Linked DNA regions of Homo sapiens. The protein of the gene in region 1 binds, or shares a complex with, the protein of each later gene. Each region holds a gene or a part of one and is shown in the gene's direction. Other genes may lie near its edges. The genes, in order: NUP160, RANBP2, NUP85 and NUP188.

Region 1 (7,026 bases):
TTCTTATTGATAGAGATGACAGACAGTATTTCACAATTATAATAGTTAAATGAGGCCAGGTGCAGTGGCTCATGCCTTGTAATCCCAGCATTTTGGGAGGCCAAGGCAGGAGGGTCATTTGAGCTCAGGAGTTCAAGACCAGCCTGGGCAACATAGCAAGACCCTGTAGAAAAAAAATTTTTTAGGCTGGGCACAGTGGCTGATGCCTGTAATCCCAGCACGTTGGGAGGCTGAGGTGGCTGGATCACCTGAGGTCAGGAGTTTAAGAACAGCCTGGCCAACATGGTAAAACCCCGTGTCTACTAAAAATACAAAAATTAGCTGGGCATGGTGGTGCACGCCTGTAATCCCAGCTACTCGGAAGGCTGAGGCAGGAGAATCACATGAACCCAAGAGGCGGAGGTTGCAGTGAGCCGAGATCATGCCACTGCACTCCAGCCTGGGTGACAGATTGAGATTTGTTTCCTTAAAAAAAAAAAAAAAAGTTTAAAGAGTTAAATGAAATTACATGTAGTACCTTGTAAGCACCTCCTCAACTGCAGTCGGTTAAAATACTTTGATTTGACATGGGATATTGCATAATTTGTTTAAGTTAGCATTTATTTAGTGCCCTATTTTCTCCTTCCTTCATGCATTTGGAAATTAGATTGAATGTTACTTAATGTTCAGTGGAAATTGACAGGTTGCGTTAATCTGATGGATACTTCTTTGTATTTTGGGAGTTCAAAATATTTTTCTTTGATGTATAGCAAATCGACAAATTGAAATCCTGGAACTGGAAGATCTGGAGAAAGAGTGTTCCTTGGCTCGCATCCGCCTCACTTTGGCTCAGCATGATCCATCAGCGGTTGCAGTTGCTGGTAGGAATTCAAGAGTTTAAAGCCTCTGACTTGTCAGCACCACGAGCACATTTTAGGTCCAGGCAGTGTATGTAGCATGGTAGATGGGTATAAAGCCTGGGTTATTACTCAGAGATACTCATCAACAAAACAAAATCTTTGGTTTCATTTGTGTATACCTTGGCTACACGAAATAATCTTTTTCCATTTTCACAGGAAGTTCATCAGCAGAGGAAATGGTCACTCTCTTGGTTCAGGCGGGCCTCTTTGACACTGCCATATCACTCTGTCAGACTTTTAAGCTTCCCTTAACGCCAGTCTTTGAAGGGCTTGCCTTCAAGTATGTATAAAATTATTTTTTTATAGTCTTTTCTAATGCAAATATATTATCCTCTTGCTCAGTGTGAAACAGTCGTCATAAGCCAAGTAGCCCATATATCATTTATGATTTGAAGAAGTGTTTTGTTTAATCCATCCAAGCATTCTTAAAAAGAATTTCAGGCTGAGCGCAGTGGCTCACGCCTGTAATCCCAGCACTTTGGGAGGCCGAGGCGGGCGGATCACGAGGCCAGGAGATCAAGACCATCCTGGCTAACAAGGTGAAACCCCGTCTCTACTAAAAATAATACAAAAAAAATTAGTCGGGCGTGGTGGCGGGCGCCTGTAGTCCCAGCTACTCGGGAGGCTGAGGCAGGAGAATGGCGTGAACCTGGGAGGCAGAGCTTGCAATGAGCCGAGATCGCGCCACTGCACTCCAGCCTGGGCGACAGAGCGAGACTCTGTCTCAAAAAAAAGAAGAAGAATTTCTTGGCCAGGCACAGTGGCTCACATCTGTAATCCTACTAATACTTTGGGAGGCTGTGGCGGGTGGATCGCTTGGGACCAGCCTGGCCAACATGGTGAAACCCTGTCTCTACTAAAAATACAAAAATGAGGGTGTGGCACACAACAGTAATTTCAGCCTCTCAGGAGGCTTAGGCACAAGAATCTCTTGAACTTGGGAGGCAGAGGTTGCAGTGAGCTGAGATCGCGCCTCTGCACTCGAGCCTGGGCAACAAAGCAAGACTCTGTTTCAAAAAAAAAAAAAAAAAAAGTTTGTGAATTAGAAATAATTTTGAACTTTCAGAATTTTTCAGCCAGGTGCAGTGGCTTACGCCTGTAATGCCATCACGTTGGGAGGCCAAGGTGGGCAGATCACTTGAGGTCAGGAGTTCAAGACCTGCCCGGCCAACATGACGAAACCCCATCTCTACTAAAAATACAAAAGTTAGCCAGGAGAGGTGGCGTGTGCCTGTAATCCCAGCTACTTGGGTGGCTAAGGCAGGAGAATCGCTTGAGCCTGGGAGACGGAGGTTACAATGAGTTGAGATTGCGCCACTGCACTCCAGCCTGGGCAACAGAGCGAGACTCCATCTTAATTTAAAAAAAAAAAGAGGCCAGGTGCGGTGGCTCATACCTGTTATCCCAGGACTTTGGGAGACCTAGGCGGGCGGATCATGAGGTCAGGAGATCAAGACCATCCTGGCTAACACAGTGAAACCCCGTCTCTACTAAATATACAAAAAATTAGCCAGGCATGGTGGCATGGGCCTGTAGTCCCAGCTACTCAGGAGGCTGAGACAGGAGAATCACTTGAACCTGGGAGGCAGAGGTTGCAGTGAGCTGAGATTGCACCACTGCACTGCAGCCTGGGTGACAGAGCAAGACTCCATCTCAAAAAAAAAGAAAAGAAAAAAGAATTTTTCATCATTAATTTTATCTTGGAAGTAAATTGTCTCTTAATGCTTACTCATGTTCTTGTAGGTATCCAGTTGTGTAACTTGAGGAAGAGATGAGCCAATATTCCAGTAGTGAATTCAGCAAAAGACTAGAGATGAAGTTGTCATCTATCTCTCTAGTTTTAGTATCAAATTAAAGTGGTACGTTTCAGCGTTCAGTTTTCAAGTGTGGAACCATTTTCATTCCAGATGCATCAAATTGCAATTTGGAGGAGAGGCAGCACAAGCAGAAGCCTGGGCCTGGCTAGCAGCCAATCAGCTCTCATCTGTCATCACTACTAAGGAGTCTAGGTACAACCCTGGTGTTCAACCCTGGGTAGTTTTGCCTTTCTAAAAGCTGTAACTGTCTTTCTCTGACTAAATTGTCCTACATAGATCATTTCACTTTTTTCTTTCTTTTTGGCTAAGTTTTTATAGGGGCTGGAAAGTTTATAATTAAGGTGACATCATGTCATTTATTGTCCAAACTAGGATGTCTTTGCCTATGAAATGTCTCCTTCTCCATATCCCCCTCCTCAAAGACTTACTGTTTCATATCAGGAAAGGGTACTCTTACAGGCAAAAATCTGTATTTACTTGTTTCGGAGTGTTATCCTCCTTTTTTCCCCCATTTCTTCCACTGAGCAGTCACTGCATGGTTTCATCACAGTGTCCTCTTATATCTTGTCTCCAGCTGCTGTTCAGCAGTCTGTCACCCATCAGCCCCCATCATCCACTATACCTTCTTCAGATCTCCTCTGGTTCGTATACTTCCCCAGTGCACCCACTTTGTGTCCACGTAAATATACTTCAGCTTCTTCAGAAACCTTCTCTAACATTCCTAACCCTCAGTAAACTTCCCTTTCTGAACTGCATTTGCACTTGGTATTATACAGCTTAGCACTTTAGAGTGATAGCACTTTAGAATTTGGAAGTTCTCTGACATTAGTTTTCAACCCCTAAATTAGCACATCAGAATAACTTATTAAAATACAGATTATGAGAAATCACCCTAGTCTTCTAAGTTAGAACTTCTGCATGATTCTAATGCTTGATCAGGTTTGAGAACCAGTGTTCTGAACCAGTTTCTTGTTTTAGAAATGCAGAAACAAAGGAGTTAAATGAATTATGCATTAATAGCCAAACAAATAACGTTCATTTACTAAATATGTTTGTTTACTAAATACTAAATACGTTAGTGGGAGAGGAATATACGAACCCAAGACATCTAGTTTCTAGTGCTATCCCCATAAGTCACATTAGCCCAAATAATATTTGTTCCCATTTAGCTATATTATTGATTCAGTTGTTAATTTCTAAAGTTTTCCTTGTAAGGCTGGGCATGGTGACTCCTGCCTGTAATCCCAACACTTAGGGAGGACAAGGTCAGAGGATCACTTTAGCTCTGGAGTTTAATACCAGCGTGGACAACATAGCAAGTCCTTGTCTCTACAAAACATAAACAAAATTAGCTGGGCATAGTGGTGCATGCCTGTATTCCCAGCTATTTAGGAAGCTGAAATGGGAGAATCTGGGGCTGAGGCTGCAGTGAGCTGAGATCACACCACTCCACTCTAGCCTGGGTGACAGAGCAAGACCCTGTCTGAAAAAAAAGTTTTCCTTGTAAATACATGCTTTGAATGGTACTCTAAATAGCTATTAAGAATCTGAAACTCATTAGTCATTTTTGTTTTTTTCAAGTGCTACAGATGAAGCATGGCGACTATTATCCACTTACCTGGAGAGGTACAAAGTCCAGAATAACTTGTATCACCACTGTGTAATCAACAAGCTCTTGTCTCATGGAGTGCCTCTGCCTAATTGGCTTATAAACAGTTACAAGGTAAACGGATTATAACTTGTACAGAGTAAGAACCCACTCTTTATCATTCTGGATAACTTCATGAGATGATTAAAAATATGGACTGATTGCAGTGGCTCATACCTGTCATGCCCGCACATTGGTAGGCCAACAGGGGAGGATGGCTTGAGCCCAGGAGTTTGAGACCAGCTTGGGCAACACAGGGAGACCCCATCTCTATTTAAATTTAAAAATATATAAAGAAAAAGAAAAAGATGGGGTGATAACTTATGGGAACATATTGACTTACGTACTTTGGGAAGCTTTTCATCATAGCTAAAACCATAAGAACAATTCAAATTCATTTCCACAGTACTACTGTGTATTTAGATTTGAAGTTTCATAGGTTAGTAATTAGGTTAATGACTCCTATTATATTCACTGAACAATGAGTTTATATTTAGAACAATGAGCATATGCATGACACAGGATTTACTCTTCATACCTCAAAAAAGTCACAGGAGTCGGTGGAGTACTTTTCAAATAATATAACACTATGGCTGGTCTGAGTGCCGTGTTGTTTACAACTAATTGAGCACAACCAGTTTCCGATTGGTTCCTTCTCCACTCCCACTGTTTCACCTATTAAAAATCAAAAACGGGTTCTTAGACTGTCTGCATCAGAATTATTCAGATGGCAGTCTTCTTCAAAATACAGATTCCTCATCCTAGACTTACAGAATCAGATTATCTCAGGCTAGGAGCCAGAAATCTACATTTTAAGAAGCTCCTAATTTGATTTTGATGCATGCTAAAGTTTGAGAACTTCTGCATCTGAACCACCGTTAGTAGGATAAGGAAAGAGAAAATCTAAAGCTTAAAATCAGGAAAGTTTTTTTTGGTTTTTTTTGTTTTGTTTTGTTTTGTTTTTTTTGTTTTTGTTTTTGTTTTTTTTTTAAGGTAGAAAGGAGGCCGGGCACGGTGACTCACGCCTGTAAACCCAGCGCTTTGGGAGGCCAAGGCAGGCAGATCACCTGAGGTCAGGAATTCGAGACCAGCCTGGCCAACATGGTGAAACCCCATCTCCACTAAAAATACAAAAATTATCTGGATGTGATGGTGCGTGCCTGTAATCTCAGCTACTCTGGAGGCAGAGGTTACAGTGATCTGAGGTTGCACCACTGCCCCCAAGCCTGGGCGACAGAGCAAGACTCTGTCTCAAAAAAAATAAATAAATAGGAAAGTAGGGAAGCCAGCTAAGATGGTAAAGGTAAGATTGTGATCAAATGGGAATATAGAAAGCATGCTTAATTAATAGAGCTCTTCCAAATAGAGACTTCAGATTTAAAGCTGGTGATTCTTTGAACTTCTTTTGCATTTGTCATTCATATATTTCTTATTATGTGAATATATTGTCACTTTAGTGTTCAGGAAAAGTTTGTTGACTTTACAACTGTGGAAACTGAAGTGGAGAGAAGTTAAAATATGTCTTAGGTCATAAAACAGGGGAAGAAGGCTATTTAACAGATAAGGGCCTCCCAAACTGCCTAGAGGTAACGGCTCTTAGGGATTTAACTTTTTTTTTTTCCTAACTCCCCAGATTTGTTATCAGCTCTTATCCTAAGATACAGATGAGTAAACCAAGCCACTGGTTTAATTATATTGAGAAATACAAATGTTAGGGAATCAGCCACTCAACATTCTTTGGTCAGTACTCAAGTAGGAGGGAAATAGGTACATATTCTTAATCACTGACTTTTCACAGAAGGTTGATGCTGCTGAATTGCTTCGTTTATACTTAAACTATGACCTTTTAGAAGAAGCTGTGGATTTGGTGTCAGAATATGTGGATGCTGTATTGGGAAAAGGACATCAATACTTCGGAATTGAGGTAGGCATATACAAATGGTCCCCAATTTACAATGGTTTGACTTACGATTTTTCAACTTTACAGTGGTTTGAAAGTGATGAACATTTATGAGAAACCATACTTTAAAATACTGATGGCCGGGCACAGTGACTCATGCCTATAATCCCAGCACTTTGGGAGGCCGAGGCAGACAGATCACCTGAGGTCAGGAGTTCGAAACCAGTTTGGCCAACATGGCAAAGCCCCGTCTCTACTAAAAATACAGAAATTAGCCAGATGCAGTGGCACGTACCTGTAATCCCAGCTACTCAGGAGGCTGAGGCAGGAGAATCGCTTGAACCTGGGAGGCAGAGGTTGCAGTGAGCCGAGATCATGCCACTGCACTCCAGCCTGGGCAACAGAGCGAGACTCCATCTCAAAAATAAATAAATAAATAAATAATAAATAAATAAAATACTCATACAACCGTTCAGTTTTTCAGTTGCAGTACAGTATTCAATAAATTACACAAGATATTCAACAGTGTATTATAAAGTAGGCTTTCTGTTAGATGATTTTGCCCAACTTTATAGGTTAACGTTAAGTGTCCTGAGCATGGTTAAGTAGGCTAGGCTAAGCCGTGATGTTCATTAGGTTAGATGTATTATATGTATTTTCAACCTATGATATTTTCAACTGATAGTGGGTTTATTGGAAAACAAACCCACCATAAGTTGAGGAACATCGGTATAGGCGCATATATATATATATATATATATA
Region 2 (7,026 bases), on another chromosome or scaffold:
ATGGCGTCAAATCAGGCTGTCAGAATTGTAAAAGAACCCACAAGTCATGATAACAAGGATATTTGCAAATCTGATGCTGGAAACCTGAATTTTGAATTTCAGGTTGCAAAGAAAGAAGGGTCTTGGTGGCATTGTAACAGCTGCTCATTAAAGAATGCTTCAACTGCTAAGAAATGTGTATCATGCCAAAATCTAAACCCAAGCAATAAAGAGCTCGTTGGCCCACCATTAGCTGAAACTGTTTTTACTCCTAAAACCAGCCCAGAGAATGTTCAAGATCGATTTGCATTGGTGACTCCAAAGAAAGAAGGTCACTGGGATTGTAGTATTTGTTTAGTAAGAAATGAACCTACTGTATCTAGGTGCATTGCGTGTCAGAATACAAAATCTGCTAACAAAAGTGGATCTTCATTTGTTCATCAAGCTTCATTTAAATTTGGCCAGGGAGATCTTCCTAAACCTATTAACAGTGATTTCAGATCTGTTTTTTCTACAAAGGAAGGACAGTGGGATTGCAGTGCATGTTTGGTACAAAATGAGGGGAGCTCTACAAAATGTGCTGCTTGTCAGAATCCGAGAAAACAGAGTCTACCTGCTACTTCTATTCCAACACCTGCCTCTTTTAAGTTTGGTACTTCAGAGACAAGTAAAACTCTAAAAAGTGGATTTGAAGACATGTTTGCTAAGAAGGAAGGACAGTGGGATTGCAGTTCATGCTTAGTGCGAAATGAAGCAAATGCTACAAGATGTGTTGCTTGTCAGAATCCGGATAAACCAAGTCCATCTACTTCTGTTCCAGCTCCTGCCTCTTTTAAGTTTGGTACTTCAGAGACAAGCAAGGCTCCAAAGAGCGGATTTGAGGGAATGTTCACTAAGAAGGAGGGACAGTGGGATTGCAGTGTGTGCTTAGTAAGAAATGAAGCCAGTGCTACCAAATGTATTGCTTGTCAGAATCCAGGTAAACAAAATCAAACTACTTCTGCAGTTTCAACACCTGCCTCTTCAGAGACAAGCAAGGCTCCAAAGAGCGGATTTGAGGGAATGTTCACTAAGAAGGAGGGACAGTGGGATTGCAGTGTGTGCTTAGTAAGAAATGAAGCCAGTGCTACCAAATGTATTGCTTGTCAGAATCCAGGTAAACAAAATCAAACTACTTCTGCAGTTTCAACACCTGCCTCTTCAGAGACAAGCAAGGCTCCAAAGAGCGGATTTGAGGGAATGTTCACTAAGAAGGAAGGACAGTGGGATTGCAGTGTGTGCTTAGTAAGAAATGAAGCCAGTGCTACCAAATGTATTGCTTGTCAGTGTCCAAGTAAACAAAATCAAACAACTGCAATTTCAACACCTGCCTCTTCGGAGATAAGCAAGGCTCCAAAGAGTGGATTTGAAGGAATGTTCATCAGGAAAGGACAGTGGGATTGTAGTGTTTGCTGTGTACAAAATGAGAGTTCTTCCTTAAAATGTGTGGCTTGTGATGCCTCTAAACCAACTCATAAACCTATTGCAGAAGCTCCTTCAGCTTTCACACTGGGCTCAGAAATGAAGTTGCATGACTCTTCTGGAAGTCAGGTGGGAACAGGATTTAAAAGTAATTTCTCAGAAAAAGCTTCTAAGTTTGGCAATACAGAGCAAGGATTCAAATTTGGGCATGTGGATCAAGAAAATTCACCTTCATTTATGTTTCAGGGTTCTTCTAATACAGAATTTAAGTCAACCAAAGAAGGATTTTCCATCCCTGTGTCTGCTGATGGATTTAAATTTGGCATTTCGGAACCAGGAAATCAAGAAAAGAAAAGTGAAAAGCCTCTTGAAAATGGTACTGGCTTCCAGGCTCAGGATATTAGTGGCCAGAAGAATGGCCGTGGTGTGATTTTTGGCCAAACAAGTAGCACTTTTACATTTGCAGATCTTGCAAAATCAACTTCAGGAGAAGGATTTCAGTTTGGCAAAAAAGACCCCAATTTCAAGGGATTTTCAGGTGCTGGAGAAAAATTATTCTCATCACAATACGGTAAAATGGCCAATAAAGCAAACACTTCCGGTGACTTTGAGAAAGATGATGATGCCTATAAGACTGAGGACAGCGATGACATCCATTTTGAACCAGTAGTTCAAATGCCCGAAAAAGTAGAACTTGTAACAGGAGAAGAAGATGAAAAAGTTCTGTATTCACAGCGGGTAAAACTATTTAGATTTGATGCTGAGGTAAGTCAGTGGAAAGAAAGGGGCTTGGGGAACTTAAAAATTCTCAAAAACGAGGTCAATGGCAAACTAAGAATGCTGATGCGAAGAGAACAAGTACTAAAAGTGTGTGCTAATCATTGGATAACGACTACGATGAACCTGAAGCCTCTCTCTGGATCAGATAGAGCATGGATGTGGTTAGCCAGTGATTTCTCTGATGGTGATGCCAAACTAGAGCAGTTGGCAGCAAAATTTAAAACACCAGAGCTGGCTGAAGAATTCAAGCAGAAATTTGAGGAATGCCAGCGGCTTCTGTTAGACATACCACTTCAAACTCCCCATAAACTTGTAGATACTGGCAGAGCTGCCAAGTTAATACAGAGAGCTGAAGAAATGAAGAGTGGACTGAAAGATTTCAAAACATTTTTGACAAATGATCAAACAAAAGTCACTGAGGAAGAAAATAAGGGTTCAGGTACAGGTGCGGCCGGTGCCTCAGACACAACAATAAAACCCAATCCTGAAAACACTGGGCCCACATTAGAATGGGATAACTATGATTTAAGGGAAGATGCTTTGGATGATAGTGTCAGTAGTAGCTCAGTACATGCTTCTCCATTGGCAAGTAGCCCTGTGAGAAAAAATCTTTTCCGTTTTGGTGAGTCAACAACAGGATTTAACTTCAGTTTTAAATCTGCTTTGAGTCCATCTAAGTCTCCTGCCAAGTTGAATCAGAGTGGGACTTCAGTTGGCACTGATGAAGAATCTGATGTTACTCAAGAAGAAGAGAGAGATGGACAGTACTTTGAACCTGTTGTTCCTTTACCTGATCTAGTTGAAGTATCCAGTGGTGAGGAAAATGAACAAGTTGTTTTTAGTCACAGGGCAAAACTCTACAGATATGATAAAGATGTTGGTCAATGGAAAGAAAGGGGCATTGGTGATATAAAGATTTTACAGAATTATGATAATAAGCAAGTTCGTATAGTGATGAGAAGGGACCAAGTATTAAAACTTTGTGCCAATCACAGAATAACTCCAGACATGACTTTGCAAAATATGAAAGGGACAGAAAGAGTATGGTTGTGGACTGCATGTGATTTTGCAGATGGAGAAAGAAAAGTAGAGCATTTAGCTGTTCGTTTTAAACTACAGGATGTTGCAGACTCGTTTAAGAAAATTTTTGATGAAGCAAAAACAGCCCAGGAAAAAGATTCTTTGATAACACCTCATGTTTCTCGGTCAAGCACTCCCAGAGAGTCACCATGTGGCAAAATTGCTGTAGCTGTATTAGAAGAAACCACAAGAGAGAGGACAGATGTTATTCAGGGTGATGATGTAGCAGATGCAACTTCAGAAGTTGAAGTGTCTAGCACATCTGAAACAACACCAAAAGCAGTGGTTTCTCCTCCAAAGTTTGTATTTGGTTCAGAGTCTGTTAAAAGCATTTTTAGTAGTGAAAAATCAAAACCATTTGCATTCGGCAACAGTTCAGCCACTGGGTCTTTGTTTGGATTTAGTTTTAATGCACCTTTGAAAAGTAACAATAGTGAAACTAGTTCAGTAGCCCAGAGTGGATCTGAAAGCAAAGTGGAACCTAAAAAATGTGAACTGTCAAAGAACTCTGATATCGAACAGTCTTCAGATAGCAAAGTCAAAAATCTCTTTGCTTCCTTTCCAACGGAAGAATCTTCAATCAACTACACATTTAAAACACCAGAAAAGGGTAAGTACTTTGTTGTTAAAGTTAAGCACAATTTTTCTTTCTTTTAATGTTTAGCTTGATGCAGACTCTTTGTAGGATACTAATGTTGGGATATAAATGATGCTTTGTGAACACCCCCAAAATATTTGAGCAATTTTTTTTCTCCCTTAATAAGTTCACGGTGAGGTTTCAAAGAGCAAGAGAACTTAGTTTAAGACATTTCAGTAACTGGAAGATACTTTTATCATGCTAGGGCAGAGCAAAAGAACTCGGTACGGTATACGGACTCATGCTTGAATCATGCACATTAACGTGAGTCTTTTTTTAAAGTGTTCATTTTCATTTGTTCAGTTTCTTTTGTCACTCAGAAAACATGATATTGAGGCTGGGCACGGTGGCTCACTCCTAGAATGCCAGCACTTTGGGAGGTTGAGGTGGGCAGATCACTTGAGCTCAAGAGTTCGAGACCAGCCTGGCCAGCATGGTGAAACCCTGTTTCTACTGAAAATACAAAAATGAGCCGGGCGTCGTGGTGCGTGCCTATAATTAGCAGCTACTTAGGAGGCTGAGGCAGGAGGATCACTTGAGCACAGGAGATGGAGGTAGCAGTGAGCTGAAATCATGCCACTGCACTCCAGCCTGACTGAGTGACTGAGACTTTGTCTCCAAAAAAAAAAAAACAACGTGATATTGAGATGTTCTCATTTTATATGTTGTATGTCAGTCTTGCTCATGTATTAAATGAGCAAAGAATGAAACTACAGGGATAAATGAATATGTAAGACAATCAGATTGGTGGTATAAATTGAGGGATTCTGGCTTTTTATGTTTTAAAAGCATATTCATTTTGTTTCCTAAAATGTTAAAAAACGAAATATTCTTTATTTTCTAGGATTTAATTTTAGCCTTTTTAAATCTAATCCCATGGCCTTTTGGACTAGCACCCCTTCCTCACAGCCTGAGAGCAAAGGTATAGAACTAGCATTCTCAGTATGAGATAACAGCAGTTTTTAGCAGCTGGGTAGCCCTTAGCAAAGTATTAATAACTGTGGCTGTATGAAATGAAGTACTTACCACTACAACATGCATGTTAAAGAATGCCAGTTTAAGCAAAGTACCTTTTGACTGGTGGCATGACACCCTTGTTGGTTTGTTTTTTAAAATGTACTGGGATGCTGATTTGTAATGTACTTCATTGCTCTGCTATTTCAGGTCTGCTCAATGAAGACCTATGTTTTATCTAATGTTTATGTTTAGCCACTAACGTCTGCCAGTATTCAAATGTAGTGGCAACGGCATGTATACAATATGGAAGAGTGTCCCTGTAGGGCTGTTCTTTTGTGCATGGTTTAGAAAAATGTTGTATTTGAAAATGGACCCCGTTTTTAACAGCCAGCATTCTACAGCTTGCATATTATATATGTTGCACCGATCAATTTTAGAAGTGTGGCTACTAGAGTGGAACAAGAAGTGGGATCTGTTGAAGGCCTTCAAGAACAGGTTAGGGAAGTGAAATCTCACCCTTAGTGACCAGTAACACATCTTAGCCATGCCAAACAAGTACAATGATAAAGTAGCAATCTCTGATTTTTTTTTTTAAGTATACCAGTTTTATTACTAGCTAAGGTAGCTCTTAATCTTTTATTTTTAAAGATACGGTCTTTGAGAAATGTGAAAAGTGTTAACTTAAAAGTGGATGTATACTTGCGTACAGTTTCTGTGAGCTCTAGGTTAGGAATCCCTGACCTAAGAATGAATGTGCCTATATACTACTGTAGAACATAGAGCCTTATTTTGTTTTGAATCTGATAATGTCATTGTCCCAAGGGACCTTAGAAATGAAGACTTTAGACATGAGTAAACTGAGGCCAAGAGAGGCTATCTGATTTACCCAAGGTGTCTTTACTGAGTAATAGCAGAAGTGGAACAAGAATCTGTATCTTACGGTGTACTGTTATTTCTCCTAGCTAGAAAATGATACTAAGTTTTTGTTTATAATGAAGGAGAGGGACAAATTTAACATTGTAAAAGGAAGGGCACTGGTTCTGCAGAGCAGTGTCATCCAGTAGAAATAAAATATAACCTGTGTATGTAATTTAAAATTGTCATTTGGTGCAATGGCTTGTGCCTATAATCCCAGTTACTTGGGAGGCTGAGGCAGAGGGATCACTTGAGCCCACAAGTTCCAGGCTTTAGTGAACTGTGATCACATCACTGCACTCCAGCTCTGGGTGACAAAGCAAGACTGCATCTCAAATAAATAAATAAATAAATAAATTTTCTAGTAGCCATATTAAAAAGAATAAAAAGAAACAGTTAAAAAGGGAAACAGATGAAAGTAACTTTATTGATAGATTTGATTTAACTTATGTCCAAAATATCATTTTAACTTCTAATTAATATAAAAATTAATGATATTTTACATTATTGTTTTTCACCAAGTCTTCAAAATCCAGTGTGTGTGTTTACACTTACTGTTAGCACGTCTTGATTTGGACTAGCCACCTTGTGAGGTTTTAATAGAATGTGGCTAGGCTACCATATTGGACACCATAGCTCTCAGAATGTTTCCCTATCACTAGTTGGTATACATGGCATGCTTCATGACTGGCTTGCTTTATTAAACTCCTTTAGCCAGAAGTTCAGAACAGGTTGCATATAGAAGTTTTTTCTCTTTCTAATTTTTTGCCCTTTGCATTGATGGTGGCTGGGGATGGGTTGTTTTTAGCCATATGAATGGTCTTAGATTTTATAGTGTTAGCTACCTATAGAGTCACAGTTGTTATTTAATTTTACTTAGTATCATGCTTGAACATAGGCAAACTAGATGCAACTCTAGTCACCTTCCATTCTTGGCAATTGTTAACTTTCCTTACAGAAACTAATCACAGTTGGCTTTGGATTAGTTTCATATGTATAGTAATACTTGCCTATGTTTTAAGATTTTTTTCAATTGCTGCAAATGCATGGATATTTTGGTAAACTATTGTATGCTAAGTATAGTTAGGCAACACTTTAAAATTTTTAACCTTTATAAATTCTAGAAATTTATAGTAATTCTTTTCAATGACTATTAAGTAAACACAAATTTTTTTTTGTTTTCTTTGGTTTTAAATAGATTCTGTGTTCACTTAGGG
Region 3 (7,026 bases), on another chromosome or scaffold:
TTCTGTTTATTACCTCAGATTTTACTAGTTGTGGACTGAAACAGTTGAATTTATTTTGTACTATTTTAATTTTCTCTATTTTGTTTTCAAGATACAACAGGGTTTTGTTGTGTCACCTGGGCTGGAGTACAGTGTGATCATGGCTCACTGCAGCCTCTACCTCTTGGGCTCAAGTGATCCTCTGCCTCAGTCTTCCTAGTAGCTGAGACTACAGGTCACCATGCCACCACGCCCAGCTAATTTTTTTTTCTTTGTAGAGATGGGAGTCTCATTTTGTTGCCTAGGCTGGTCTCGCACTCCTGGCCTCAAGCGATCCTGTTGCATTTTGGCATTTTTATTTTTGAAATGTTAGCTATTTTAGATTTTCATTGATTTTTGAGATCTTGAAGATGTTGAATCCCGGAAAAAAATTAATAGTTTTCATGAAAAATTTTCTTCATATTTAAAATGTCAAGCTTTTTATCCCTTTTTCTTTGTCCAAAGTGACCAAATTCCTATCAGTAGCTCCCTTATTGTGAACCTTGCAGATGCTTGGCCGTCACTTTTGTGTCCACAGCATGGATTCAGCTGAATAATAGTTCTGTAGGCTGAGCTGAGCCGTAGCATCCAAGGCACAGATGGAGCTGGAGAGTGACATAGCTTGTCCTTGGCTTGATTTTCCTGAGTTCCATCAGCTATTGGATAGGATGTGAATCTTTTTCTTTTCCTGATACAGTGATACAGTCTCCTTCCAGTAGAAGGATAAAACTGGAATCTTGACATTTGATTTGCTTTCTTTTTTTTTTTTTTTTTTTGAGACGGAGTCTCGCTCTGTCCAGGCTGGAATGCAGTGGTGTGATCTCGGCTCACTGCCACCTCCGCCTCCCGGTTTGAAGCAATTCTCCTGCCTCAGTCTCCTGAGTAGCTGGGAATGAAGGCATGTGCCACCACGCCCAGCTAATTTTTGTATTTTTAGTAGAGACAGGGTTTTGCTATGTTGGCCAGCCTGGTCTCGAATTCCTGACCTCGTGATCTGCCTGCCTTGGCCTCCCAAAGTGCTGGGATTATAGGCAAGAGCCACCATGCCCGGCCACAGAAAATTTTTTTAGAGTAGATTCACTTTTGGAGATGATCATAATAGATGTTAAATTTTTTTTTTCTGTTTGGTTTCAGAAAAATCAGAGATGGTGCCAAGTTGCCCCTTTATCTATATCATCCGTAAGGATGTAGATGTTTACTCTCAAATCTTGAGAAAACTCTTCAATGAATCCCATGGAATCTTTCTGGGCCTCCAGAGAATTGACGAAGAGTTGACTGGAAAATCCAGAAAATCTCAGTAAGTTGGTTGCTGTTTGGTGTTGAAGCCCACACTACACTGTGGAAAGCCAAATGAAGTACATTGTTGTCTTTTTGTGTGTTTTATGGGTTGCGTAAAGAAATAAGAGACTCCTGGTTCTAGTTGAGGCATGAGTACTGGACAGTGTACATTAGCAGTGATGGGAAGACTTAGCGGGAATATGCAAATGCTATTGATGGGCTGGCTTGACAAGCTTTATTTATATTCATATTTTACTTAGCCTCTAAAGAAGAAAATTTAGGCCACACAAGCATGTGAGAGTCGTTGAATGAGGTCACATTGTTGGGAGATTTGAAAATTAATATAAACCTAACAGTTTTGTCTCTAAAAAATTATGGTTCAGACGTTATTTGACAACAGACCAGAAAACTCTCGTACTATTTATAGATTAGGATTTTCTTGAATTGTAGTTCATAACTTCATCATTATCAGAGTGGTACTTGTTAATTGTAGACTTTTGGGACCCACCTCAGATCATCAAAATCAAAATCTCCGTGGTTGGATCTTAAAATCTCCAGCACACTGAAGTTTAAGAACTCCTGTGTTAGATTTTTGTCAGCGTCCCTTCACATGGATGGCTAGGGAATGGGCAGTGTTGGTATGTTACTTCTTTGATAAGCTTTTCACAAATGAATCATTCTGGACAAGACTCAGGTCAGCTTCTGTGTGAGTGTGTGCAAGAGTGATTATTGGTTGTTTTTCTGTTTTTTTTCGAGGCAGAGTTTCGCTCTGTCACCCAGGCTGGAGTGCAGTGACGCGTTCTCCGCTCACTGTAAGCTCTGCCTCCTGGATTCACGCCATTCTCCTGCCTCAGCCTCCCGAGTAGCTGGGACTACAGGCGCCTGCCACCACATCCGGCTAATTTTTTGTATTTTTAGTAGAGACGGGGTTTCACCGTGTTAGCCAGGATGGTCTCGATCTCGTGACCTCGTGATCCACCTGCTTCGGCCTCCCAAAGTGCTGGGATTACAGACGTGAGCCACTGTGCCTGGCCCTGTTTTTTTTTTTTTTTTTGAGACAGAGTTTCACTCTGTCACCCAGGCTGGAGTGCAGTGGCGCAATCTTGGCCCACTGCAGCCTCTGCCTCCTGGGTTGAAGCCATTCTCCTGCCTCAGCCTCCTGAGTAGCTGGGATTACAGGTGCGTGCCACCACGCCTGGCTAATTTTTGCATTTTTAGTAGAGATGGGGTTTCATCATTTTGGCTGGGCTGGTCTTGAACTCCTGACCTCAAGTGATCTGCCCACCTCAGCGTCCCAAAGTGCTGGGATTATAGGAGTGAGCCACTGCACCTGGCCTGATTATTGGATTTAAGGGACTCTAGTGGAGAATATTGGTGAGTTTGAGAAATCTATTGTCACTTCTAGGAAAAAAACATGTCAAAAGTCCTGTAATTCCTTGCTGGCAGGGGACCCTGTCTTATTCTTTTTTTTTTTTTTTCAGATGGAGTCTCACTCTGTCGCCCAGGCTGGAGTGCAATGGCATGATCTTGGCTCACTGCAACCTCCGCCTGCCGGGTTCAAGAGATTCTCCTGCCTCAGCCTCCTGAGTAGCTGGGATTTTTGTATTTTTAGTAGAGACAGGGTTTCACCAGGTTGGCCAGGCTGGTCTCAAACACCTGACCTCAGGTGATCTGCCCACTTTCACCTCCCAAAGTGCTGGGATTACACGCCTGAGCCACCGGGCCTGGCCAGTAAATACATTTATGTATCTTTTTTATTTTTTTGAGACAAGGTCTGACCAGTAGATTTCATCTGCAACAATTAATGGCAGTATGGGTTTGTGGATATTAACTTTAGCCCATGGGTTGTTTTGTGGCGTTTTATTTTGTTGTCCAAGTTGTTCCAGCTTCAGAAGGTTAGGAGCTCCTTCACAACGGCTCTCCTCTTTCTTTCAGCAAATTTCTGCATTTATTTGAGTGTTTCCTTCCTTTGTGGCACTACAAGATGTTCCAGGCTCATCTTGTGTGTTATTTCATTTTTTGTAGATTGGTTCGAGTGAGTAAAAACTACCGATCAGTCATCAGAGCATGTATGGAGGAAATGCACCAGGTTGCAAGTAAGGACTGTGTGCGCGTGCGCGCGTGTGTGTGTGTGTGTGTGTGTGGGTATTTTGAGTATTTATCTATGCATAAATACTGTGAGGTAAAGTTTGATTGATATTCCAGTCCAAAACTTATTTTTCCATCTTTCATAATCCTTACTTTTTTGGTAATCATTTAGAGGTTTTTTTTTTTGTTGTTGTTTTTTTTTTTTTTTTTTTTTTTTTTTTTTTTTTTTTTTGAGACCGAGTGTTGCTCTGTCGCCCAGGCTGAGGTGCTGTGGCATGAACTCAGGTCACTGCAACCTCCACCTCCCAGGTTCAAACGATTCTCTAGCCTCAGCCTCCTGAGTAGCTGGGACTACAGTTGTACACCACCAAGCCCAGAGTTCTGGGATTACAGGAGTCAGCCACTGTGCCTGGAGTTTTTTTTTTTTTTTTTTTTTTTTTTTGAGACAAGGTTGCCCAGGCTGGAGTGCAAAGAAACATTATGGCTCACTGCAGTCATGAGCTCACCGCCTGGGCTCAAGTGATCTTCCTACCTCATCCTTCCAAGTAGTTGGGACTGCAGGTGTGTACTACCATGCCCAGCTAATTTAAACAGTTTTTGTCCAGTTTTCCTCAGAGAACTTTGTTCTGATAATTTTTAAATTATTTGTAGAAACGGGGTCTCCCTAATTTTTCCAGGCTGTTCTTGAACTCCTGGGCTCAAGCAGTCCTTTGACATCAGCCTCCCAAAGTGTCGGGATTACAGGTGTGAGCCACTGTGCTTGGCATGTCAGAGACCTTTATGGTAGCTGTGTTGCAGTTGAAAGTGCCATTTTGTAACTTGAGGGCTTTTGGTTTGAGAATTGAAGGGATATGAAGCATTAACAGCAACAAAAAAATCCATAATTAAAAGAGATTATAATGTCTTTTAATTTTTCTCATTAAAATAAACAGAGGCTCAAGCCATAGACCCTGGAATATTCAGCTATGACAATAAGCCTAAGAGTTCCATTGCTCACTTAAAATGTTTTGTGTTTTGTTAGTTGCTGCTAAAGATCCAGCCAATGGCCGCCAGTTCAGCAGCCAGGTAAGGGGAGTCACCTTTATTGTTTTAGCACCACTGTGTCCTGTGTCCTGGGCACCCACCTGGGGTGGCTTTGCAGTTCCTGTTATGGCAGAAGTCTCTTCTTTTCAGGTAGATAGGCAGCTCCTTTGGGTGACAGTGATTGTCTTGCCCCCTTCAAGGTGTAGCTCACAAGGAAGTGCTTGTTAAATACTTGAGTGAATGTTCGGTTCCTTTTTTTTTTTTTTGAGATGGAGTCTTGCTCTGTCACCCAGGCTGGAGTGCCCTGGGTTCAAGCATTTCTCCTGTCTCAGCCTCCCGAGTAGCTGGGATTATAGGTGCATGCCACACCAAGCCCAGCTACTTTTTGCATTTTTAGTAGAGATGGGGTTTCACCATGTTGGCCAGGCTGGTCTTGAACTTTTGACCTCAAGTGATCCACCCGCCTCGACCTCCCAAAGTGGTGGGATTACAGGTGTAAGCCACCGTGCTGGCCCTGAATGTTCCGTTCTTATGGAACATATATGTCCTGACCAAATTGTGTTGAGGGGTTGTCACCTGAAATGGAGAAGTAATCTTGTGAGATCACTGCTCGGTCTCATAAACACTCCTCACTTCTTGAACTCAACATTTTTTTTTTGAAAGACAGGGTCTCTCTGTGTTGTCAAAGCTGGTCTCGAACTCTTGGGCTCAAGTGATCCTCCTGCCTTGGCCTCCCAAAGTGCTGGGATTATAGGTGTGAGCTGCCACACCTGGCAAAACTCAAGTTTTTTTTTTTTTTTTTTTTTTTTTTTGAGACGGAGTCTCTCTCTGTCGCCCAGGCTGGAATGCAGTGGCGCGATCTCGGCTCACTGCAAGCTCCGCCTCCCAGGTTCATGCCATTCTCCTGCCTCAGCCTCCCGAGTAGCTGGGCTAATTTTTTGTATTTTTAGTAGAGAGGGGGTTTCACCGTGTTAGCCAGGATGCTCTCGATCTCCTGACCTCGTGATCTGCCTGCCTCAGCCTCCCAAAGTGCTGGGATTACAAGTGTGAGCCACTGCGCCCGGCTAAACTCAACATTTTTACTGAGTTGCAAGTGGCTCTACTTTACTTGGAGCTGGAAGATGACTTACAGTATCTTTTTCCTCAGTAGATGCTTCATATTAGATACTTTTCAAAGTCAGTAGTGACTAGGTAGTAATTCACTGTCTCTGAAGTACCCTTATGAACAAGTCATCATGGTGTCTGTGGACTGAAGGATGGTGAGGAAGGGAAGCCTGCGTATTCCTAAGGGCAAGGTCCAGGTCTGATTTATTTCGGGGTCTTATATTGGGCTTTCCCGTTAATAGACTGTTCCCCTAAACTTCAGTCCTTTGAATACCAGCTTCACAATTCTTGCTCTGTCTACGTGTTTCATGTCATCTACTGAATATTCTTCTAAATATTGTCTCTTCTTTTTACTCAAATGAAGCACCTTGCTAAAGCATCAGTTCATCAAGATAGGCTGGGCGCAGTGGCTCACGCCTGTAATCCCAGCACTTTGAGAGGCCGAGGTGGGTGGATCTCTTGAGGTTAGGAGTTCGAAACTAGCCTGGCCAACACGGAAACTCCATCTCTACTAAAAATACAATATTTAGCTAGGCGTGGTGGTGTGCGCCTGTAATCCCAGCCACTTGGGAGGCTGAGGCAGGAGAATTGCTTGAACCCTGGAGGCAGAGGTTGCAGTGAGCCGAGATCATGCCACTGCACTCCAGCCTGACTGACAGAGTGAGACTCTGTCTCAAAAAAAAAAACAAAAAACAAAAACTGAGTGTTGGCAGGGCACGGTGGCTCAAGCCTGTAATCCCAGCACTTTGGGAGGCCGAGGCAGGTGTATCACGAGGTCAGGAGATCGAGACCTTCCTGGCTAACAAGGTGAAACCTCGTCTCTACTAAAAATACAAAAAATTAGCTGGGCATGGTGGCAGGCGCCTGTAATCCCAGCTACTGGGGAGGCTGAGGCAGGAGAATCACTTGAACCCGGGAGGCGGAAGTTGCAGTGAGCCAAGATTATGCCACTGCACTCTAGCTTGGGCAGCAAGAGCCAAACTCCATCTCAAAAGATAAATAAATAATAACTGGTGACATGCAAGTTATATTTTTTCTTTTTTTAAATTTTGAGACAAGGTCTCGCTCTTGCCCAGGCTGGAATAGTGGCACGATTATGGCTCACTCAGACTCAACTTCCTGGGCTCAAGTGATGCTCCCACCTCAGCCTCCTGAGTAGCTGAGACTGCGGGGATATGTCACTACACTTGGCCAATTTTTATATTTTTTGTTGAGACAGGATCTTGCCATGTTGCTCAAGCTGGTCTCAAACTCCTAGACTCAAGCATTCCACCTGCCTTGGCCTCCCAAAGTGCTGGGATTACAGGAATGAGCCACTGCACCTGGCCAAGTTATTTTTGTAATGCACAGTAAAATAAAATCACAACCACTAAAACAAAATAGTGTTGGTCTCCATCCCACCACCTAACATCCTCACGCTGGCTCCCCTGTGGGAAATCCTCCAGTAGGATTGCAGTAACCTTTGGGTTAAGGAATGACTGTCATATGAGTCAAAGTCTGCTTTATCCCTTGGCT
Region 4 (7,026 bases), on another chromosome or scaffold:
TCTACAAAAAATTTTTTAAAAAATTAGCCAGGCATGGTGGTGCATGTCTGTAGTCCCAGCTACTTAGGAGTCCAAGGTGGGAGGATTGCTTGATCCTGGGAGGTTGAGGCTGCAGTGAACTCTAGCCTGGGAGACACATCGAGACCCCAGCTCAAAAAAGCAAAAAGCTTTATAAACATTACGCATTCCCTACTTCTTTGCTGAAATGAGACTACCTAGCCTAGCTGCTGAAGTCTTTTAAATCTACCTTTGTATTTCATTGATTCCTTTTATGAAAAGATACCTGTGTTCATTGCTTGGCTGCTGAGAGTAGGGGTGCAAATACCATTCTTCTACCTCAACCTAAGAAAGATTCTTGGCCAGGCATGGTGGCTCACGCCTGTAATCCCAGCACTTTGGGAGGCCGAGGCGGGCGGATCACCTGAGGTCAGGAGTTCGTGACCAGCCTCAACATGGAGAAACCCCGTCTCTACTAAAAATACAAAATTAGCCCGGTGTGGTGGTGCATGCCTGTAATCCCAGCTACTCGGGAGGCTGAGGCAGGAGATTCGCTTGAACCCGGAAGTGGAGGTTGCAGTGAGTCGAGATCGCGCAACTGTACTCCAGCCTGGGTGACAAAGCGAGACTCCATCTCAAAAAAAAAAAAAAAAAAAAGTCAGGCTTGGTGGCATATGCTTGTATTAGTAGTTCCAGCTACTCAGGAGGCTGTGGTGGAAAGATCGCTTAAGCTCAGGATATCAAGCCTGCAGTGAGCCATGATTGCATCACTGCACTCCAGCCTGGGTGACAGAACAGGACCCTGTCTCAAAAAACAACAAAGAAAACTTCACCACAACATCATTTATATTATTAAATAATTACAGTCAGCTTAAGTATATCAAACATTAGAGGAATGGTAAATGAATTATGATCTACCAACTTGATACAAGTATTATGCAGCAACTTGAAAGTATGTTTATCAAGACTTTCATAATAAGGTTAAGTCATTATGTTATAATGTTAAGCAAAGAAAAGAAGGTTACAGAATTCTGTATTCAAAATGATTTCAACTCTGGGGAAAAATGCATATTAAAAACACTCAAAGGAATGTGTAATACTTAGTGTGATTCTGGAATCTGATTTTTTTTTTTTTTTTTTGAGACGGAGTTTCGTGCTTGTTGTCCTGGCTAGAGTGCATTGGTGCAATCTCGGCTCACCACAACCTCTGCCTCCCAGGTTCAAGTGATTCTCCTGCCTCAGCCTCCCGAGTAGCTGGGATTACAGGCATACACCACCACGCCCAGCTAATTTTGTATTTTTTAGTAGAGACAGGGTTTCTCCATGTTGGTCAGGCTGGTCTCCAACTCCCAACCCTAGGGGATCCGCCCGCTTCGGCCTCCCAAAGTGCTAGGATTACAGGCCTGAGCCACCATGCCTGGCCGAGTCTGATTATTAATAAAACTGCATTTGGGCCGGGCGCAGTGGCTCACACCTGTAATCCCTGCACTTTGCTGACATGGGCAGATCACGAGTTCAGGAGTTCAAGACCAGCTTGGACAATATGGTGAAACCCCATCTCTACTAAAAATACAAAAAAAACTGACTGGCATGGTGGCGTGCGCCTGTAGTCCCATCTGCTCAGGAGGCTGAGGTAGGAGAATTGCTTGAACCCAGGAGGCGGAGGTTGCAGTGAGCCAAGATTGCGCCACTGCACTCCATCCTGGGTAACAGAGTGAGACTCCGTCTCAAAAAAAAAAAAAAAAAAGAAAGCACAAAAAACTGCATTTGCGGTCGGGTGCCTTGGCTCACGCCTGTAATCCCAGCACTTTGGGAGGCCAAGGCAGGCAGATCACTTGAGGTGGGGAGTTCGAGATCAGCCTAGCCAACATGGTGAAACTCCATCTCTACTAAAAATACAATAATTAGCTGGGTGTGGTGGCTGGCACCTGTAATTCCAGCTACTCGGGAGGCTGAGGCTCGAGAATCACTTGAACCTGGGAGGCGGAGGTTGCAGTCAGCCAAGTTGGTGCCACTGCACTCCAGCCTGGGTGATAGAGTGAGACTCTGTCTCAAAAAAAAAAAAAAATACTGCATTTGTATAATTACCTTGTTCTTTTCCAGAGTCAGATTGAGGCAGAACTGAATAAACATTGGCGGCGATTGTTAGAGGGGCTTTCTTACTACAAACCTCCCAGGTATGGCAGTTCCGGGTGTCTGGTTAAAGTAATTGTCCTAAGGAAGCTGACATGGATAAAACCATCCTTCTATGTGCTTTGATGATATTGTAGGGTTATGTATACCAGAGATAATACAATTTAGTTTACCAGTGGAAAACAGTAGGGTACATTTGTTTTTTTGTTGACCGAAAGAAAAGGAAATTCCTTCTAGAAATACAGTATTGTAGAATATAATTATGACCTATGTGTGGGGATGAGAATTTATTAAACATTCAACGAATTTTCTAATATTTATTCAGAGTCCACAGTGTCTGTGTGAGTACTAATTGGTGGGAGATAGCAGTGAAGGATGATGCTAACAACTGACACTTGTGTAGTGTTAACTATGTAACAATTAATACTCTAAGCACCTGACTTATCAAAAGTTATTTAATCCCCACAACACCCCTTTGAGATAGTTACTACTTTTATTCTTTGGGTGAATATATAGATCTTTTTATTGGGTAGTGGAAAACATAGTAATAAAATATAAAGTAGTTGCAAATAAAGAGAATGCAGCTTGTAGGGCTGGGCTTATTTGATCTTGATTCCTAGTCCAGATCTCATTCTATTATGCGTTATAGTCTAAGTCACCCTCATTTCCCTTCTACTTTTGTACTGCTTTTGAATGTATTACATCTTTACCTTCCATTTTCATTCTCTTAGGTTAACGATGAACTTTTCCTTGTTATTCATCTGTCTGTTAATTCTTCCCCTGTAATTACCTTAAAGTAAATCCCAGATACCTTGTTATTTTATCTGCAAATACTTGACTATGTATCTAAAATACATGGACTTTTTAAAAAGATAATCTCTATATTATCACATTTAGGTACCCTTATCATTGTTTCCATTTTACCAGTGGGGAAACTGAGGCACAAAGAGGTTAAGCAACTTGTCATGGTCACACAGCTACTAAGTGATAGAACCAGGATTTGACCCTGGTGGTCTCATTCCAGTGTCTGTTCTTTTTTTTTTTTTGAGATGGGGTTTTGCTCTGTCGCCCAGACTGGAGTGCAGTGTCACATCTCAGCTTACTGCAACCTCCACCTCCCGGGTTCAAGTGATTCGCTTGCCTTGGCCTCCCGAGTGGCTGGGATTACAGGTGCCCGCCACCACGCCCAGCTAATTTTTGTATTTTTAGTAGAGATGGGGTTTCACCATGTTGGCCAGGCTGGCCTTGAACTCCTGATCTCAAGTGATCTGCTCACCTCGGCCTCCCAAAGTGCTGAGATTACAGGCGTGAGCCGTCATACCCAGCCTATTGTTTTCTTTACTATCTTTTTTCTGTTCCAGGATCCAACCTAGTTGTCAAGTGCCTGTAGTCTCCTCTTAGCTGTGACAATGTCTTAGTCTTTTTTTTTTGAGATGGAGTCTCGCTTTGTGGCCCAGGCTGGAGTGCAGTGGCACGATCTCGGCTCACTGCAAGCTCTGCCTCCCGGGTTCACGCCATTCTCCTGCCTCAGCCTCCCGAGTAGCTGGGACTACAGGCGCCCGCTGTGACAATGTCTTAGTCTTTTTTTTTTTTTTTTTTTGAGATGGAGTCTCGCTCTGTGGCCCAGGCTGGAGTGCAGTGGCACGATCTCGGCTCACTGCAAGCTCTGCCTCCCGGGTTCACGCCATTCTCCTGCCTCAGCCTCCCGAGTAGCAGGGACTACAGGCGCCCGCCACCACGCCTGGCTAATTTTTTGTATTTTTAGTAGAGACAGGGTTTCACTGTGTTCGCCAGGATGGTCTCAATCTCCTGACCTCATGATCCGCCCGCCTCGGCCTCCCAAAGTGCTGGGATTACAGGCGTGAGCCACCGCGGCCGGTGACAATGTCGACAATGTCTTAGTCTTACCTTGATTTTCATGACCTTGAACAAGTTTGAGGACTGGTCAGTTATTTTGTAGTATGCCCCCAATTTGGGTTTGTCTGATGTTTTCCTTATTATTAGACTGGGGTTGTGAGTTTTTGGGAAAAATACACAGAGGTGAGGTGCTCTTCTTTTTTTTTTTTTTGAGATGGAGTTTCGCTCTTGTTGCCCATGCTCGCGTGCAATGGTGCGATTTCAGCTCACTGCAACCTTTGCCTCCTGGGTTCAAGCAATTCTGTCTCAGCCTCCCGAGTAGCTGGGACTACAGGTGCATGCCACCATGCCTGGCTAATTTTTGTATTTTTAGTAGAGACAGGGTTTCACCATATTGGTCAGGCTGGTCTTGAACTCCTGACCTCAGGTGATCCGCCCGCCTCAGCCTCCCAAAGTGCTGGGATTACAGGCGTGAGCCACCACGCCTGGCCAAGCTACCCTTCTTACCACATCATAGCAGAGAGTACATGCTGTCCACATGAAATCACTGGTAATGTTAATCTTGGTCACTCAGTTAAGGAGGCATTTGCCAAGTTTCTCCTCTGTAAAGTTACTTTTTTCTCTTTTCCTATTTTATTTTTTGGAAGTGAGTACTAAATATAGCCATGTCCAGCTAATTTTTTTCACTTTTGGTGGAGATGAGGGTCTCACTTTGTTGTCTAGGCTGGTCTCAAACTCCTGGCCTCAAGCTACACTCCTGCCTTGGCCTCCCAAAGTGCTGGGATTACAGGCATGAGCCATTGTTCTGGCCCCTCCCTATCCTATTTATTTATTCATTAGTTTATATCAGTATAGACTCAAATATATTTATTTTATTTATCTTATACTTTGTTTATACCTTGTTTCAGCTTTGGCTATTGGGCATTCTTTTAGGTTGGCCTCTGTCCTTTGGGCGTGTCCTTCCTTTTTTCTTTTTTTCTTTTCTTTTTTTTCTATTATGTCATCTCCTACCGAAAGGACTTTGGTTTCTTAAGCCCTTTTGTACTTCTTTTCACTATAAGATGCTTCAAGATTTTCTTGTATTTTCCTTGCCCTGACTCTAGAATCAACCAATTCTCCAAGGAATCCTGTTATTAGAGAATGGTATTATAAAGCAGGATCTGGGTGCTGCATGTACCTCCTGCTGTTGGAGTATTATAAATTCTAGGCCTTCTCGGTGGACAGAGCTATTACAGATAATATATTAATATATGTATGTATGCCACAGACCTGGTTTTAAATTTTAGCAACTGTTTATGAGCTGTGGGATTTTTGGTAAGTTATTTACCCTAAGTGCTGGCAATTCCATTTGTAAAAGGAGAATAGTAATATTTGCCTTTTAGGGCAGTAGTAAGGATCAAAAATAATGTAACTTAATGTGTTTACAAATAACATTGTTATAACTGTAATTTAACCACTTTTTTTTTGTTTTGTTTTGTTAGGCATAACCAGTTCTGCGTTATGAAGTTTGTAGAGGTGAATGGGTGTGTGTGTGTGTGTGTGTGTGTGTGTGCGTGTGTGTGTTTGTGTGTGTGTTTATAGGCATCTGAAGGGCAGAAAATAGTCTGTAGGAAAAATATTTTAAAATATTTTTATTTTAAACTCAGTGGGCTATTGAGAATGAAGAAATGATTCACTGTTCTTTTTGTAGTCCAAGTTCAGCTGAAAAAGTGAAAGCTAATAAAGATGTAGCTTCACCATTGAAGGAACTGGGTTTAAGAATCAGCAAGTTTTTGGTGAGTAAAAATTAGCACTCGCTCAATTTATTACTTGCAGTGTGGATGTGCGTGGTTATATTGCTAGTGATAGTGAAAATTCAGTTTCTTTTTGTTTTGGGGATTAAATTGTTTTATAAATACCCAGGTTGCAACTCTTCTCCCTAAAAGTTACAAGTCAAAGTTGCCTGATCCATTCACTGCATATCATAGGGTTTTCTTCACCAGACATGTGGTGGTCTTTAAGGTGACTAAGTTTGTCATTTTGGAAGCTCACATCATGCCTACTGCTGTATTAATGTGCTTAGTGAATAAGCATCGTTGTTTCTGGCATGTACATTTAATTGTAATAAAAATTGTATGTCAGTGACTGGCTCTTGTCTTCTATTAGAGTCAGAATTGTTATGTTTTATGAATCTTTGAGAAGCATTTTTGTTTATTCAAGTCCTGTGTTCATTGTAGAAGACAAATCTTTAAATTCTCTGCATCCTGTGTGCGATTTCTGAGCTGTTCCTTACTTAAAATCTCTGTGTTTCAGGGTCTTGATGAAGAACAGAGTGTGCAGTTACTCCAGTGTTACCTGCAAGAGGACTACAGGGGTACTCGGGACTCAGTAAAGGTTTGTGGTTTATGTCAGCTCCTTTCTTCTGCCTTTATCCTTTTTCCCTGTTGGTTTTAGATAATGTAGGATTTTGGCACCAATTCTTTTATCGGTGGTAGGTGATCAGGTACCGTCATCTTCAGGGAAGACCTACTAAAGGCTTTAAAAAAAACATGACCTGGGTGCAATGGCTTGTGCCTGTACTCCCAGCTTCTTGGGAGGCTGAGGCAGGAGGATCACTTGAGTCCAGGAGTTTGAGGCTGCAGTGAACTGTGATCGCACTACTGCACTCCAGCCTAGGCAAAAGAGTGAGACCCTATCTCTTTAAAAAGTAAAGAATATATATGCATATAAGCTGAGATCTGTCTTCATACTTGGAGGAGTGGAGAGGTCAAAGACTGACATGTTAATCATAGAATCTTGGGCTATTAGAGGTGATAAGGATTTGGTAGAGTTTCTTTTTTTTTTGAGATGGAGTTTCGCTCTGTCTCCCAGGCTGGAGTGCAATGGCGTGATCTTGGCTCACTGGAAGCTCTGTCTCCCGGGTTCACGCCATTCTCCTGCCTCAGCCTCCCAAGTAGCTGGGACTATAGGCGCCTGCCACCACGCCCGGCTAATTTTTTGTGTTTTTAGTAGAGACAGGATTTCACCGTGTTAGCCAGGATGGTCTCAATCTCCTGACCT

What was found.
Region 2: NUP160 (region 1) and RANBP2 share a complex: the UniProt entries of both Homo sapiens proteins name them as parts of the nuclear pore complex.
Region 3: NUP160 (region 1) and NUP85 share a complex: the UniProt entries of both Homo sapiens proteins name them as parts of the nuclear pore complex.
Region 4: NUP160 (region 1) and NUP188 share a complex: the UniProt entries of both Homo sapiens proteins name them as parts of the nuclear pore complex.

What each region holds. Positions count from the first base shown.
Region 1 is NC_000011.10:47,782,335-47,789,360, reverse strand, and holds part of NUP160 (nuclear pore complex protein Nup160), read left to right. Parts: intron 1-749; coding exon 750-860; intron 861-1,055; coding exon 1,056-1,179; intron 1,180-2,806; coding exon 2,807-2,908; intron 2,909-4,297; coding exon 4,298-4,439; intron 4,440-6,162; coding exon 6,163-6,288; intron 6,289-7,026. UniProt on the Homo sapiens protein: Functions as a component of the nuclear pore complex (NPC). Involved in poly(A)+ RNA transport.
Region 2 is NC_000002.12:108,764,479-108,771,504, forward strand, and holds part of RANBP2 (E3 SUMO-protein ligase RanBP2), read left to right. Parts: coding exon 1-3,910; intron 3,911-4,781; coding exon of another isoform or gene 4,782-4,859; intron 4,860-7,026. UniProt on the Homo sapiens protein: E3 SUMO-protein ligase which facilitates SUMO1 and SUMO2 conjugation by UBE2I. Involved in transport factor (Ran-GTP, karyopherin)-mediated protein import via the F-G repeat-containing domain which acts as a docking site for substrates.
Region 3 is NC_000017.11:75,208,671-75,215,696, forward strand, and holds part of NUP85 (nuclear pore complex protein Nup85), read left to right. Parts: intron 1-1,152; coding exon 1,153-1,315; intron 1,316-3,321; coding exon 3,322-3,392; intron 3,393-4,405; coding exon 4,406-4,449; intron 4,450-7,026. UniProt on the Homo sapiens protein: Essential component of the nuclear pore complex (NPC) that seems to be required for NPC assembly and maintenance. As part of the NPC Nup107-160 subcomplex plays a role in RNA export and in tethering NUP96/Nup98 and NUP153 to the nucleus.
Region 4 is NC_000009.12:128,950,673-128,957,698, forward strand, and holds part of NUP188 (nucleoporin NUP188), read left to right. Parts: intron 1-2,100; coding exon 2,101-2,174; intron 2,175-5,677; coding exon 5,678-5,762; intron 5,763-6,279; coding exon 6,280-6,360; intron 6,361-7,026. UniProt on the Homo sapiens protein: Component of the nuclear pore complex (NPC), a complex required for the trafficking across the nuclear envelope. Required for proper protein transport into the nucleus.